Regions from separate parts of the Homo sapiens genome. Here region 1 is linked to region 2. Evidence: fine-mapped expression QTL. Tissue or cell type: thyroid. Region 2 holds a variant in brackets; the other region holds the start of a gene. All regions are shown on one strand. Distances are from middle to middle.

Region 1 (8,104 bases), 100 kb after region 2:
GTCATTGCCCTCCCTGCCTCCTCATTCAGGGTCCCAGTTCCTTCAGGAAGCCTTCCTTGATCACTTAAGAAAGCTTATTCACACAACCGTTCAGCAAATCCTTATACATATTAATAGTCTAACTGGGAGATAAGGCCCCATGAAAAGTTAGGTTAGAATGTAAGCCTTAGTATAAGTGTACAAGTTACCAGATGTCACAGATATCATAGGGCCAAATCAACTGCAGATACAAGTGATTTCAAAATGGAGATCTATATGACCCGGAGCAAGTGGTTTCTCCTCTCCAGGCCTCAATTTCCTTGGCTAGGAAACAGGGGATGGTAATGCAGACATTAGAAGGTTGTCAGCACGACTGAACAGAATAACTTTTGTAATGTTCCTCACATAGACTGGTGCATAATAGGTATTCAATAATAAATTTGATTCCTTCCCCCTTCTCTGTCTGAAGCACCAGCCTTCTACTTGCCCTGGGCTGCCAGATAAATGGTGAGATGTGACCTGGTCCATCCTTTCAGGTCAGAAAAGTATCCTAAGGACAGGATGACTTAAGCGGTACCTGGCATGTTAGAGGTCACTCAGTGTGATAATTCACTAGCATTGTTCATGTTCCTCACCTCTGCCCCCTCAAGCTGTGGGTCTTTGAACGAGCCTGGTGGGAACAGAGCTAATCAGCTGGCAAGTCCAGATACAAGTGTGGTCAGCTTGAGACATGGAGGTTTGTTTACCGCTGTATCTTCAGCTTCTAAAATCATGAGAGGCACACAGTAGGCACTCAAGAAACAGTTGTTGAATGAATACATTTTTTTAAAAGCCATGGAGTTTCCTTTTCCTTTCAAATAAACGACATAAGGGTGTGGGGAGTAGAAGGGGGAGGTGAGTAAATGACAGGGTTCAAGGGACACCAGGGCCAGGCAAATGCAGCTGCCAGGCCCACCAGCCCAGGCTCCTCTGCAAAAGGGATGCAGCAAAGTCAACAGTGCATGTGCTCCCACTGGCAGGATGAGCAGGAGTGCGTGCACGCCTGGCTTACGGTTTAAGCTGCAGTTTACAGGAGAAGCAGGGCAAAGTGGAGACAGAGCCTGGGAAGAAAGGGAGATATCTGGGGAAGAATGAGGAGGGTGAGAGAAGAGGAAGAGCAGTGTGAGGGGGAAAAGGGAAGTGAAGAGTGTTAGAGGAGGAAAGTGAAGAGTGAAGGAAGGAGAGGAGGATGAGGGGGAGGAGGAAGAGGGGAGGCACAGGGAAAATAGGATGGGAAGTGAGGAAGAACTGTGTTGAATTAGAGAGGGAACCTGCTGTACTAGCCTGGATGGAATTAGCAGATCTCTGAGATCTTACTGCCACTCGGTGTTTCCCCGGGAGGAGACTGCATTAGGGAGAGGGTGTGGATTTGGGGGTGTTCCTAGGTGCCAGACCCTGGGCAGACCTCAATCTCCCAGGCACTGAGGCCTTTAGTTCCATGCTTTGCAAATAATGAGGACCCATCCCAGGACCAGAGAGAGCCCTCCGCAAGAAGGAGAAGCCTGAGTCAGCACAGGGGAAGGAAGAAGGCCTAGGAGGCTCAGATCCCTAGCTCTGCCCTTCTGTTTCCATCGTTTCGCCACAACAGCACCTGGCCAGGAAAGTGGGTCAGGCCACCCACATGTGGCTTTTTCTGGTAGCCACAGGGCCCAAAGGCAAGGGGGCTCCAGTGCCCAGTGCAGAGCCCACCTCTACCCTCCATGCCCAGTGCTCTTTTTTGAAGGGATCTTTAAGAAGCAGTGGGCAATGGGAGGAGCTCCTGGCCTTCTTATTCAGGGACAAAACGCTGGGCCAGAGCCCATCCTAGACTGGCGGGAAAGGGGGGCACGGAGCCTGCCATCGGCCTGGGTGCATGGGGAGACCTACATCTTCCCCTATGACAGTGACCAAACTGGCAGGGAGTCACCTCTACTGCCCTGACCTAGGGAGGCTGTTCTCCTCACCACCCTAGGTCCTGGAGTTCTCAAGCAGAGGGCCTGTCAGTCCATCTCTGGCAACTGAGCGCTGTGCCCAGCCCACCCCCTCCAACCCTGCCAGTCGCCCAGTTAGAAGCTGCGTTGGCTCCAACAGATGGGAGCTGCGGCAGCCTGAGGAACAGAGCACAAAGCCCAGCTGACATTTTCCTTCCTGTTCGTTTGGGTGGGGGAGGAAGGGTAGGGAGCACAGTGCTACCCCCGGGGCCCCTCCCCAGGTTCCGGGTCTCCTGCACCTCTTTAGCTTCTCCGCTCGGCCCCAGATGGAGCTCAGTTCCCTCACCCCGCGGCTCCTCGCCGGCTGGGCAGCCAGAGCCTGCGCCACCCTTTGCCAGCAGGACAGACGGCCCACCTGTGGCTGGCCAGCCCATCCTGTCTCCTGGGTCCTGCGGTGGGCTCAGAGCCACCCTTCCGTTTCCGCTTCCCCCTGACCGAGTCCCCAGGCTGAGCCCCAGGCCGGCCCATCCCCCACCCCAAAGGTCCCATCCCAGGCTGCGGTCGGACCCCAGCCAGCCGGCCCGGGAGGAGCCTAGCTCCTGGTTCCAGATACTTCAGACAGACCCAAGGCCACCTTGTCCCTCCGCACAGACTCGCGAGCTCCAAGGAGGAGAAAGTCCCCAGGCTCTGGAGCGCTTCCAGCCTGCCAGTCCGCCCGTGTCACGCCCTCCCTAACCTCACTGCCACCTCTCGGCTCCTCCACATCTCCAGGGCCCCACTCTACCCAGCAACAGTTTGGGGGAGGTTCTGGCCTCTCCAGGCGAAGGCCCAGGCGCCCTCTCCCTGGCCGCTTCTGGGCATTCTCCAGCCCTCCGTCCCTCTGCCCCTCGGCCGCCTCCCTCTCCCAAGTCTCCGGCTCCCCCGCAGGCGTCTCGGCGGAAGGCAGCGGCCGGCCCTCCTCTGGCCCCCACCCGGGTCAGGCGGAGCTGCGGTGCCGGGGCAGGAGCCAGGAGCCCTGAGGCGGCTGCTCCGGCCGCTCCCGCCGCGTACGCCTCGGCCACGCCAGCGACCTCGGTGTCCACGATTCCCCGGCGGCGGCGGCGCTGCCCAGGTCAGCCCCGAAGCTGCACACTCACCCCGTGGGCGCCGGGCACCGTCTGCCGTCTGCTGCCCGCGCGGCCGCGCTCCGCTCGCCTTCCGCCCGGGGCCGGGCTGGGGACGCTGGTCCGCGCCCTCCCGCCGCGCGCGCCGTCTGCACAGGCCGGGGAGGCTCGGCGGGCGCCCTCCCCAACGTGGAGTTATCCTGGGAGCGGCTCCAGGGCCCAGCCGGTGAGGGCGATGGCAGAATCCCAATCCGTCCCCACCCCCTCTCCGCGCCCTGGGCGCGTCGCGGCCGGAGGCTGGCGGGCGAGAGCCAGGCGCTCCTTGAGAGCGCCGCGCGTTCGCAGGTGCCCGGAGCAGGCCCTCGCGGCGCCCGGCACCCCCTCCACGCGCGCCCCTCTTCCCGGCTTCGCGCTCGCCCTCCTCACTCGCTTCTCCGCCGCTCTCCCAACCTCCCCAGCCCACTCCGGTCGCCTCCTCCCAGTCTGCATGCCACGCCAACCCCCTCCAGTCCCGCTGCCATTTTAACTCCTGAGTGGCCAGAGGCCCCCTCTACCTAACGCACACACACCCGGGAGGAAGGAGTTGGGTGGGGCCAGACGCTAACGCTTGAGCTGTCCTTGTGCCTAGAGACACAAGGCTTGGCTGAGAGAAGGGGCACAGCCCTTGGGTCCGGGAAGAGAAGGGTTGGCTTCTCTCATACTGCCTCGGACCCTCTTGCAAAGGCCAGGAGACGAATGGGGAATTCAGCAGCTTTGTGAGGACAGGTGCAGCTCACAGTCACAGCATGCACCTAAGATCACATTTTTGCTTTGCATGGTGCTACCCTCCCGAAGTTAACAGTGGACTAAGGAATGTAGTGGGGTGGGTGAGAATTTGTCACTGGGCCCAGGCACCTCTCACCCTAAAGAATGGAGTGGAAGACCCCTTTAGTTGTCATGCTTTTCCAGCATTGCATCCTGAGCCGTGCAGCTCTAGCATTCTGGAAGATTCCGTCCTGGCTCTCAATGAAGGAGGTCAATTTCAGTCAGGAACTGGCAGGCCCAGTTAGGGGTTTGGCTTCAGGGTTCCCCACTCTGCCAGCTGGACATCATGAAGACTGGGGGAGGAAAGTAAGAAGGTGCCAAAGGTGGGTGCTAGGCTGCTGCCTGGTGGCTTAGAAAAGCTGGGTGACTGCCACTAGAGGAGGGCAAAGGCCCAATGCCCAACACCCATGCCTTGGTGGGGACTTCAGCCTGGACCACTCAGAACAGACATCACAAACTCGGCTCCATGGCAGGCCACACCCTACTGATGGGTCTGGACCAGAGCCTGCAGAACCAACAACAGGGGAATGGATGAGGTGGAGGCCAAGGTGTGGAGTCCTGTGAGGAGTGGCTTCCCTGGGCTGCCTGCCGTCATCCAGTGCTTGAGCTTCTGGCCCTGTCTTTTCCAAGGGTACAGCCAGTGGTGACTGCCATGCCTGGTGGCTTTTGTGAAGTTGGCTTGAAGGTCTGAGTTCTGTATGCACAGAGGGGATTCTCACCTTCATATATTGAATGAGCACATATTAAGTTCCCACTAAACCACCCCCATGTTCCCACTCTCCACCCCTGCTACGGAGCATAATGGCCTCAAGGAGCTCAGAGTGACAGGTTGGAACTATATGAAACCAATTTTAATATTTCAAGACGATGGAAGTGCCATAGAAATACAAAAAGAAACCACCTTAATGGACTAGCATTATTCACAAAAGGTTTAACGGAGGAGCTGAGTCTCCAACTGAGCCTAGTTGGAGGGATAGGATTTGAACTGGAAGAGAATATGGGGACCAGCAAAGGCAGGAAAGTGGAGACAAGCAGAGTAGAATGGGTTGTCTGGAGGGTAGGGGGCAAGGGAGGAAAATTATAGAGCTACTATTAGATGCCAGCCTTTTCTCATCTCTGTCATCTTAGACTCTGAGTTGACTAATATCCCCTTTTAACAGACCGGGGGATGGAGGCCCAGATCGTTTAAGGCAGTAGCCCAAAATCTGTAGGCAGAATGTGAGACCTCATTTTCACAGTGCGACAATGCCACATTGAGTATACAGGGTGGGAGCAGCTGATGAAGGGCCCGAATTGCCAGGCTCAGCAGTTTATCTGTGGACCCATCCTCAGGTGATTTGGGATGAAAGAGGCAGGAGGATGGGAGACTATTGAGGTAGCTGTTGCAGGAATCTAGGAGGAGGGGAGCAGTGAGAATAGAGTAAATGCATGGGCCTTTGTAAAGAAGACTTGGCAGAACTGTAAGACTGACTGATTGAAAGGGGTCAAAACTTGACTCCAAGCTTTTAGCCTGAGCATTTGAGTCCCTTGTCGAGTCACTGGAGCCACCTTTCCAGTCTAAGGGCCAATGTCAATGTAGACAGGATGATGGTGAAAAGGAGGACATTTTAGGAGTCCTTTACCAACTGCACGACCGGAGAGAGCACTCATGTCAGCACCCCAGCTTCCCAATAACTATGCATACTCAAGTGTCTTATCTCCTAACCAGAGGGTAAGCTTCTGGAGCCTATGACTGTCTTACACCTTAATAAGATAAGACCAGTCCTTTATAGTAGATGTCCAATAACTGATTATTGAAATAATAAATGGGATAAATGCAAGTAACGTTCACTAAGTGGTTGATCCTGAGTGGCAAAGCCTGTGAGATGTACTAGATGAGGCATAAGGGAATTTCATCAGCTGTGAGAAGAAAATAGGGGAAGGCTTATCTTGAGCTGACTCCAAATGTCTTAGAACCCAATGAGATTGGAGAAAGAGTGTAGCTTTTAGAGCTGGAAAGATTTGGATTTGGAACTCTACTTGTCCATTTACTCTGTCTTGCTTCAGGCAAAGTATTGAACTTCCCCAGCTCTGATTCTTTCCTGAGTAACGATATTAATTCAAGTAATAGCAGTTAACATTTATTGAGCACCTACTACATGCAAGGCAAGGTGCTAGCACATTTATGCATCATCTCATCAAAAATTTGACCAATACTAGGACTCTAGTGATAGGAGAAAAACAAGGTTCAGTGTTTACCTAACCAGTATGTAACAGAGCTAAGACGGGAATCCAGGGTCCTCAAATGACAGAGTCCAAACACCAAGCCAAGTCTCCCTAGCACTTCTTTAGGATGAAGATAGCAATAATGGAATGGATTCATACTTATAGGTTGCTGTGAGATGTTACAGGGACTATATGGCTGGCATGAGCACAGTGGCTGGTGCATGGTATGTGGTTGACATTTTTCTCCCAACCCTGCTCCCATTGCTGCCATTCTGAGTCTCATACTTTCCTGGGAAAAGCTGCCCCAATTCACAGTCCTTTGGAAGCTCTTAGGTAATTACCCAGAGGATTTAATGGCCCTGTTATTGACCTTTCACCCTCCAAATTTAATTTCTGGGCTTGGCCATGCATTATTTCCCACCAGGAAGCCTGGAACTCCGTGACATCAGAGTGTCTTGGGAGAGGGATGCAGGGATTACATGCTGCTAGAAATGATCCTTAGCTCAATTCCAGGTGGCTCTCTCATATAGGGGTCAGGATATGGAACTGGTGGGGATGCTGTTTGTGTGGTGGGGGCTGTGAGGAGAGGATGGCTCCTACTGGTGCCTGGCACATGAGCCGAATCAGAGAAGGGAGGCCTGGGATGTGGCATGGGTCACTGAGGGTCCCTCAGTGGACCCTCCACACACACGACACTGTGTGTTGTGTGCAGCCTCTGCTCAGCCTCCTTGGGAGATATGGGGTGGGGTCTGGGGAGTCAATGAGGACTGTTGTCCCCCACCAGTGACCCAACTAGGCAGAGAGTAAGGCACTAGAGCAGTGGACCTTGGAATCACCTGGAGAGTGTGGGCCAATGCAGGTGCTGAGGTCCTACCCCAGAGTCAGATTCTGTAGTTCTCAGAGTCTGCATTTCAGATAAACCATCCAGGGGATTCTGATTCAGGTGGTTGGATGACCTCACTGTGAGACAGACTGGCCTGGGGGTGCCCATTGCTCTCTGACCGTCCCCTGCCCGGGCTCCCCATGTGCAGAGCCTTGTTCTCTGGGCTATTAGAGAACAAGTGAAGGCAGAGGCAGAGGCAGAGGTGAAGGGAATGAAGCTCAAGTTTTAGGGCTTCTCGACTTGCAGGATGGTGGGGAGAGGGTGGGCTATGAAAGCTGGGAACTGTAGAGTGTCCTAGGTGAAGAGGGGAAGCCAGTTTACGAACAGGAAGCATTTTTATGTAAGGATTTCTGGTAAATGGAATGAAGAAATGTCAGGAGAAAGGGACCCTGAATGTCCAAGGCTCATGTAAATTGTTATCTTCTTGCTGGCCGTAAGTAAATATCACTGTTGTACCTAATTTTGTATTTGGAATTTTGCGGGTTTTTTCTTAAGACGGCCCCACAGAACTGGGATCTTCCCTGACCCCTGCCCTCAGGGAGCTCCCAGGATCCACAGACACCCTTGGAACACAGAAAACCGCAAAGGCAGAGAGACACACGTTGCAGATGGCAGAGCTGTGTGGAACTGCAGGGAGTCTTCAAATTTATCTTGGGTTATATTCCTGGAAAAGGCACTGCAGGTAAAAATGATGTAGGTTGAACCTGTTTTTGCCCAGAAACAATGTGATCATAAAAATTACATTCCTCACCAATGTCCCGGTGCCCAACTTTTTATAGGCATAAGCACAAACACCACAGACACCATATTTAATCAACCATAAATGATACACCTCTACTCTGTTTTTTTTTTAAGATGGAGTCTCGCTCTGCCACCCATGCTGGAGTACAGTGGCAAGATCTTGGTTCACTACAACCTCCACCTCCCAGTTTCAAGCGATTTTCCTGCCTCAGCCTCTCGAATAGCTGGGACTACAGGCGCGTGCCACCACGGCCAGCTAATTTTTGCATTTTTAGTAGAAACGGGGTTTCACTATGTAGGCCAGGCTGGTCTCGAACTCCTGACCTCAAGTGATCCACCCGCCTCAGCCTCCCAAAGTGCTGGAATTACAGGTATGAGCCACCACACCCGGCCCTGTATTTCTTTTTCTTTTCTTTTTTTTCCCTGAGATGGAGTCTTGC
Region 2 (8,104 bases):
TATTGTTGAGTGAGCTATTAATAATGATTATTTCTAAGACCATAAAAGGTGACTTCATATACATGATCTTATTTCCTCATTCATTCAAATCCGTGTACATTTGCTGGGCTTACGATAATATGCCTGGACTTTGCTAGATTCTGGGCATGCAATGACAAATTAGACACCCTGTCTGTGCCCAAGAAACTTATGTCAGGGTGGGGAGAGTGCAGGAAAAAGACTGAAAAAGACAAAACAAAACCAAAAATGAAAGCACAGAAAATTTGCAGTATGTGCAGCCAGCAGTCAACGGGTGCTGGTGAAACCGAGAGGAGGAGGCTCCAGCCCAGCCTGGATCAGGGGAGGCTCCCAGGGGAGAGGAAGAAGGGTTGGGCTTTGTGTGCCAGGAAGGAGGGGGTGAAGGGGAGGGGATGGGGGCTCTGGAGGCAGGGGAGCCTGTGGGAGATGGGACATGTTCAATAGCTCAGTCCAGCAGTGCAGAGGGGAGTTTTGAGAAATGAAACAGGAAGAGGGAAGAATGGAAACCACACCTTTTATTGGAACATAGAGTGCTTTGTATTTCTCAAAACACTTTCACATCTATTATCTCCAGTTAGCCTAAAAACAACAGCAGAAGCAGCAGCAACAACGATGCTGAGTGCTGACTGCGAGCCTGGCTTCCTCGGAGGGAGTTTACCGTGCGCTGCCTCCTTGGACCCTCATCACTGCCCTGCGAAGCAAGCACTTTCCTCACCCCCTCTGTCTGGAGGAGGGCACTGAGGCACCGAGAAAACTGGGCAGGGGAGGCCCGAGAAGGAGAGGGTGGCACCGTCATTCTCACTTTCCAGCTGAGGACACGGGTAAGTGGCATGCGTCCGCTCCTGTGACTTACAGGAGTCCCGGGACTCGCACTCGGGCCTCTGGACTCCTAGCCTGGTGTTTTCCCCTGGAAGTTTCTGAACCAAAAAAAAAAAATGTCTGAACCAAAGCACACAACGAGATTGTGAGTGGAAATCAGCTTCAGCTTCCCTGGTGTTTCTCCACGGTGATCCTCTGTGTCTGTCACTGAAGGGGCCAGGATGTCACCACCAACGGTAATGACCTGGGCTTTGAGTGGAGCATTTAACCTGTTCAGCCAGCTGTTGGAAGTGCAGAAACTAGTCCCTCCCAGTCACAAACTACCCCGGTTGCTCCACCATCTGCATCCAGCTTCATTACTTAATTCACTTTGCAAAGTTAATCCAGTGATCCAAGCTCCTAATAGTCCCCAGTTTGACTTCCGCAGCTTCCCTTTCTCTCCACACCCAGCCTATCCCGGGCTTCTGGGTCACCAAGAAGCAGGACCCTTTCTGTTGATTTCTTCTGGGAGGAGGCCATCTCAATAGCCCTTTACAACAACCCATGAGGTCTCCTGATTTCCGTGTTTTCTTGGAGTCCCCTGAGCTTTGGTTTGCAGCACAAGCTCATTCCCCTCTGTGCTCCCCTCTCACTGTGTGGAACCTTCTCTAATAGACTCACCTCTGGGGAGAGGACGTGCTCCTTTCTGGCCGCAGCTGCAGCCATTCCAATGTACATCAAAGCGCTCGTCTTTCTATCTCCACTTCTTAAATGGTTTTGCTTTTTCTCTATTTCTTCCTTCTCATGGGCAGCTCAGAGCTCATCTGTGACAGTGACCACCCTTCTGCCCCAGCCCTGGCCCCACGACCTTCCCTAACACTGCAAACAACTTCACTCTTGGCCTCCTGCTGGATATCTGGTCAGTGGCCTACATTCCTCCCACTCATGCCTCTTTCTTTTCTTTCTTTTCTCTCTCTTTTTTTTTTTTTTTGAGACAGGATCTTGCCCAGGCTGAAGCCCAAGTGGCAAGATCAAGGCTCGCTGAAGCCTCAACCTCCCAGGTTGAAGCCATCCACCCACCTCAGCCTCCAGAGTAGCTGGGACCACAGGTGTGCACCACGATACCTGGCTAATTTTGTCTTTTTAAAATTTTTTTGTTGACAAGGTCTCACTATGTTGCCCAGGCTGGTCTTGAACTCCTGGACTCAGGCAATCCTCTCACCTTGGCCTCCCAAAGTGCTGGGATTACAGTTGTGAGCCACCATACCTGGCCTGCATACCCTTTTCTATCTGGCTTTCTAGACTTTAAAATCTTTCTTGGTGGCTCCAGTTTGCCATATCTTATGGTCCTGAAATGACCCCTGTCACTGAGGCAGGGAGCAGAGGAGACTGGGAATTTGTGCTGATGGTAAATAGATATGGTTTGAATCCTGGCCACTGCCCACCAGCCATGTGACCAAGACTTAACCATATTTTTTCGGGGTGTTATGCAGAGATAATGAGATCAAAATTGTAAGGCATCTAGTACTGACATAATAAGCTCTCAACAAATGGTAGCTATTTAAGTGTTAATAACAAATCCTTTTCAGATGGTTTCTATAACAGTGAATTTGCAAATAGTTGGAACCTCTGAAGTGCTTCCTCTCCTGGACTGGAAACCCCTTGAGGTCAGTGGCCTTGTCTGCCTATTCACAATGTCCGTCTAGCACATGGTAGGCTCTTAATATATATATATATATATATATATATATTTATTTATTTATTTTTTGATGAATGAATAATCTAGACTATCCTAAATTCTGATATCACGATTCCTTTCTAGTATTAAATTCCAAATTATAATACATGTTAATTGCAGAAAAATTGGAAAATATTTTTTAAAAATAGGAAAACAAAAAAATAGCTGTGATCCTAGTCCCTAGAGATAGCCACAGTTAATATTTTGATATATTTCCCTGCAGCCTTTTTTTCTGTGCTTATGCATATTTCAAAAATTTTATATTCTGGCTTTTCAGTTAACATAATGAGCATTTCCCTGTGTTACTAAATAATCTTCATAAACATAATTTTAAGTGCTACATATATTATTCTGTGCTATGAATGTATCATAATTTATGTAACCAATACCCAGTGGTTGATATTTAAGTTGTTTCCATTTTTCACCATTATAAATAAAGCTACACTGAACATCCTTTTGCATAAATCTTTGTGTATATCTGAATTAAGATTTTCTACCAAGAATAAATTCTACAAAGTAAATTGCTGATTTAACAGTGAACATGTTAAGGCCCCAGGTAAATGTCTTGTTAAATGATTCTTCATAGAGGTTGCACTCATTGTCTGTCCTCCTGCTATCAAGGTATGAGAATTCTCACCACCAGAATATTGTTTAAAATGAAAGAGTCTTTGCCAAATGGAGAAGTGAGACACAAAGCCTATTTTTTCATGATGATCGCTCCTGTCTTTGACAAGCATGGTGCTTGTCAACTTGACATTTTGGACTAGATGGTTCCTGGTGTGAGGGGCTGCCCCGTGCATTGTAGGATGTTTATCAGCATCCCTGACCACCTACTAGATGTCAGTAGCACCCCCTTTCCCCCAGTTATGATAACCAAAAATATCTCCAGACATCACCAAATGTCCCCTGGGGAACAAAATCGCCCCTGGTTGAGAATGATGGAGTTATACTGTATTAACTCTATTGGTTACAAGTAACAGAAACCAACTCTAAGCAAAAATGGGGACTTTGTGAGAAAAGTCTTAAGGTATCATGGAACCCAAAGGCATGGATGCAAGTGGGCCTCCCTCCTCTTTTCAGGGCTGCCTCATTCTTTTCTCTTGCTGTAGACTGGCTTTCTCTCTATTCTTGACTCCAAGGAGGAGAACGGCCACCACTAATATTTCTGAAGTTTATGTCCCTGTGTTTATGAGAAAGCCAGGCTACCCTGGAGTCTCTTGGTTCCAAATGCTCAGGGAAGGACTCTGAGATGCGCAGCTTAGGTGGGCTATGCACAGCTGGTCCCATCAGTGTGGCTGTCGGGGGACAGGAAGGACACGTGGCTCCTGGAGATCTTGTTGTATCCATGTGGATGTGCCTGTATTTCTAGAAAAAGGCTGCTGGGCAGCTGATCCCTTAGGACTCCCCTAGATGCCCACACAACAGAACACTGGACACTTTGGCTACAAGGCCAGGGACTGTCTATCTCAACGGTGTACCCTTCATAGTTCAGCCTAGATGTCCAAGCTTGGCTTGATGGTGGCAACTGCTCTGCCACCCAGGCTTTGGTTTAGGGGTCTTTTGGGGGTGGAGGGGCCAATTCCTCTGTGACTGACTGGCTGATGCAGCTTACTTGAACAGATCCAGCCTAGAGAGCCAACTTTAGAGACTGGCGTTTGCAAGTCTGTAATGGTGTTTGACAGGGGAAGTAGATGACTGCTGGTCCTCCTTCATAAACTCGGCCTTGGAGTGTGCAGCCACTGAGGTACAGGGGTCCCGTGCTGTCCCTGCACTAACTGGAGTGCTCAAAATCCAGCCTCTGCCTTCAAGAAGGGAGCAGGTCGGTGTGCAGTCAGCATGGCCCTGAGACCTAGCCCTGAGGACAGAGACTGTCCCCTGTGGGCACCTGGAGCTGTTGGTAAATGGGCAGAAAGGCAGGGCTGTTACCCATACTTGTATTAGAGGAAGAGCATCCTCTTTTTCTCTCTCTTCTTTTTTTTTTTTTTGAGACAGTCTTGCTTT[G/A]TTGTCAAGCTGGAGTGCAGTGGTGCAGTCTCGGCTCACTGAAACCTCCGCCTCCTGGGTTCAAGCGATTCTCCTGCCTCAGCCTCCCAAGTAGCTGGGACTACAGGCACACGCAACCACGCCTGGCTAATTTTTGTATTTTTAGTAGAGATGGGGTTTCACCATGCTGGCCAGGATGGTCTCCATCTCTTGACCTCGTGATCCTCCCAAAGTGCTGGAATTACAGGTGTGAGCCACCACGCCAGGCCTAGCATCCTCTTCTGAAAGTCTTTCCAGCACACAGATGCCATTCCTGCCTTCACCTCGCCGTGTGGTCTTGGACGGTCATTTCTCTGAGTCTCAGTTTCTTCATCAGAAATGAAATGATACCTGCCTTGGCTTCCTCATAGCATCTAAAAAGACATTTGATAGAAAAGTGCTTTCAAAAGCAGATTGCAGGCCGAGTGCAGTGGCTCACGCCTATAATCCCAACACTTTGGGAGGCCAAGGCGGGTGGATTACTTGAGCCCAGGAGCTTGAGACGAGCCTGGGCAACATGGCAAAACCCTGTGTCTACAAAAAGTACAAAAATCAGCCGAGGATGGTGGCACACGCCGGCAGTCCCAGCTACTCGGGAGTCTGGGGTGGGAGGATCACTTGAGCCCAGGAGGCAGAGGTTGCGGTGAGCTGAGATTACACCACTGCACTCCAGGCTGGGTGACAGAGAGAGACCCTGTCTCAAAACAAACAAATAACAACAACAACAAAAAAAAAACAAGAAACAAAAAAAACAAAAGCAGATTGCAAAAGCAGTGCACATCTTGTAATAAAGATGCTTATGATCATTATTTCAGTTCTGGGGAAATTCTAAATCCTTGGCGCCACTTATTGCACAACAGAGGCAGGGCCTGGGGCAGTGCTGCTTCTGCGCCATCTCTCTCAGACCTGGAGCTGGCTCCAGATTTCTGCTGCCTGAGAATATTTCAGGGAAGTTTCCCCTAGAAACTGAGAAGCCTAAACGTGAGTTGGGTTTTTATTCCCTGTGTGACCATGGCCATGTTAATTCACCTCTCTGGGCTTCTATCTCAGCATCTGTGAAGTGGGCATAATAGTGGCATCTATTTATACGTCATTTATGCCTGTCAAGTGCTTGTGCCTGGCACAGGGTAGGTGCTCACTCAGTGGTTGCTCTGCTTGTTTATATCACAATGTGGCAGGCACTGGGCCAGGTGCCAGGCACTGAGAGATGAATAGAATGTAACCAGCCCTTAGGACACTTATGATTTACCAGAGGAGATGGCACAAAAAGCATATTAAAAAGCAATGTGGCAAATTAAATGGTAGTAATCCTACCAAGTGATAGTGCTCCTGGGATTGGGTTCCTCTCAGATGCTCCCCAGGGGCTACTGGAGTGATGTCAGGTAAGGCAGGACACCAGGAAACACCCATTCTCCCGGGCTCTCTGCAGAGCAGGCAGCTTTTGGACCTACCCGCTTCAAGGAGCTGAAGAAATGCCTTCCTCCTCACCTCTCAGGCTCACAGGGAACATTTTTCAAAGGGAAAAACTCTTTTTTTTTTTTTTTTTGTAGTCATCCAATGTTTTCAACCCTAGGGCAATGGTTAGGGAGAGAGGACATCTTGTGGGTGGCCTATAACACGGTCAGTAACCTTATGCCACAAAGACTACACATGACATAGAAAGGTACTTATGTTGTGCACCGAGGAGGCACTGACCCTGTGCATTCCCAGCACCTCAGAACCGCTAGCTCTGTGCAAACCTTCCAGCCACCTCGGGCCCAGGAAGGCGGGGTGGGGGCCTTGATTCAGAAAAGGCAGAGACACTGCAGTCCTGGGGAGGGGTGATGTCTAGAGCCTGAGAGGAGCAGTGGAGCACTCACGGGAAATGCAAAGCAGACGCAAGACCAGGCCCAGAGCCTGGCGGAAGTGGGGAGGGGTGGGGCAGGTGTGGGGCATTAGTTGGGGAGGGGCTTGCTAGGAGGAGGTGACTTCAGAAGGCATCTGCGGACTGTGGTCTGGGACTCTGCTGGATGTGGCATGGCTTTGCCACCCTCAACTCTGGTGTGTTAAAGAGGTAAAGGTCACACGTACACATGGATGAGGACAGGGAAGACACACAGGAAACAAAAACAGATTTGTTAGGGCTGTCGAAGAGTGGTTTGCTTATTTTGAGGCCTCTCCCCATTTCTCTTTTCCTTATCAGGATGTGTACGGCACCCGCATCCCCTCCATCTGCACCCGCAGCCACAGCCACAGCCACAGCCAGCGCTATGTCCCGTTGCCATTCACATTCATACCTGCAACGTACACTCATACATGTGTCGGATATTTGCGAAGAAGCTCCCTTTCCCACCTAGGTAAATGCTAGCTTCCAGAAATTTGAAAAAAAATGAGTGTAATTCCTACTGGGTTGGTTCCCAGCAGGCCTTTGTCTTTCCTTCTCCCTCCTCCAGGCCCCTCTTCTTTCCTTTCCTTTCCTTTCCCTCCTCTACCTCTTTCCCTTCCTATTCTTCTGCTCCTCCTCCCTCCCAGCTGGTTCCCTATTTCCCTTACCCCCTCAAACATCTCCCCTCTCTCCATCCCCACTCCCAATCTGCCAAACCCACCCCCACCTAAAAATGTGGACCGTGGAGTCTCTGACCGAGGTTTCCTTTCCCAACATGGGGAGCCCGGGCTGGCTGCGATTTGTTGGGGACAGGTAAGAAGGTGCAAACTTGGGGGTTCAGAGGGAGGGCGGGGGGGGTGGCTGGGATGCATGGGGTAGGTAGGGGTGGCAGTTTTTCCAAATTATACATTCAGGCCATATGTGGAACCCTTGCAGAGACCTGGCTTGCTGTTTTTCTGTCTCTTCCTGGTGTGCTGGGCAGTCTCTCTGTGCTCATGGTTTAACCAGTCTTTCTTTATTTTTATTTTATTTATTTATTGTTTGAGACAGAGTCTTGCTCTGTTGCCTAGGCTGGAGTGCAGTGGTGTGATCTCGGCTCACTGCAACCTCTGCCTCCAAGTTTCAAGTGATTCTCCTGCCTCAGCCTCCCGAGTAGCTGGGATTATAGGCACCCGCCACCACGCCCAGCTAATTTTTGTATTTTTAGTAGAGACGGGGTTTCACCAGGTTGGCCAGGCTGGTCTCGAACTCCTGACCTCAGGTGATCCACCCGCTTCGGCCTCTCAAAGTGCTAGGATTACGGGAATGAGCCACCATGCCTGGCAGCTCTTTTCTATTTCTTTTTTGGCTCTCTCTTGTCTCTCTCTCTTTTTTTTTTTTTTTTGTTTTTTGTTTTTTTTTTTGAGATGGGGTCTTGCTCACTATGTTGCCCAGGCTGATCTTGAACTTCTGGGCTCAAGCCATCCTCCTGCCTCAACCAGCCAAGTAGCTGGGATTACAAGCGAATGCCACAGCACCTGGCTGCTCATTTCCTTTTAGCGCTGAATAATATTCCATTGTCTGGATGTACCACAGTTTATTTATCCTTCCACCTCCTGAAGGACACCTTGGTTGCTTCCAAGTTTTGGCAACTAGGAACAAAGCTGCTATAAACATCTGTGTGTGGG

The links. PIP is the estimated chance that this variant, and not a neighbour inherited with it, causes the effect.
Region 1: it holds the start of LRRN2, and the variant in region 2 is fine-mapped to the expression of LRRN2 in thyroid (GTEx, PIP 0.91).

The regions. Positions count from the first base shown.
Region 1 is chr1:204,682,256-204,690,359 of GRCh38, forward strand. LRRN2 (leucine rich repeat neuronal 2) reads right to left here and starts at 3,483. Exons shown (of 2, transcript NM_201630.2): 1 at 3,065-3,483.
Region 2 is chr1:204,578,675-204,586,778 of GRCh38, forward strand. LRRN2-AS1 (LRRN2 antisense RNA 1) reads left to right here. Exons shown (of 13, transcript XR_007066814.1): 3 at 1-1,735; 4 at 2,406-2,483; 5 at 6,756-6,909. Among named protein-coding and RNA genes, the nearest start is that of LRRN2-AS1, 19 kb to the left of the region's middle. RefSeq lists an enhancer at 1-102. The variant G/A (reference allele first, on the strand shown) is at 4,556.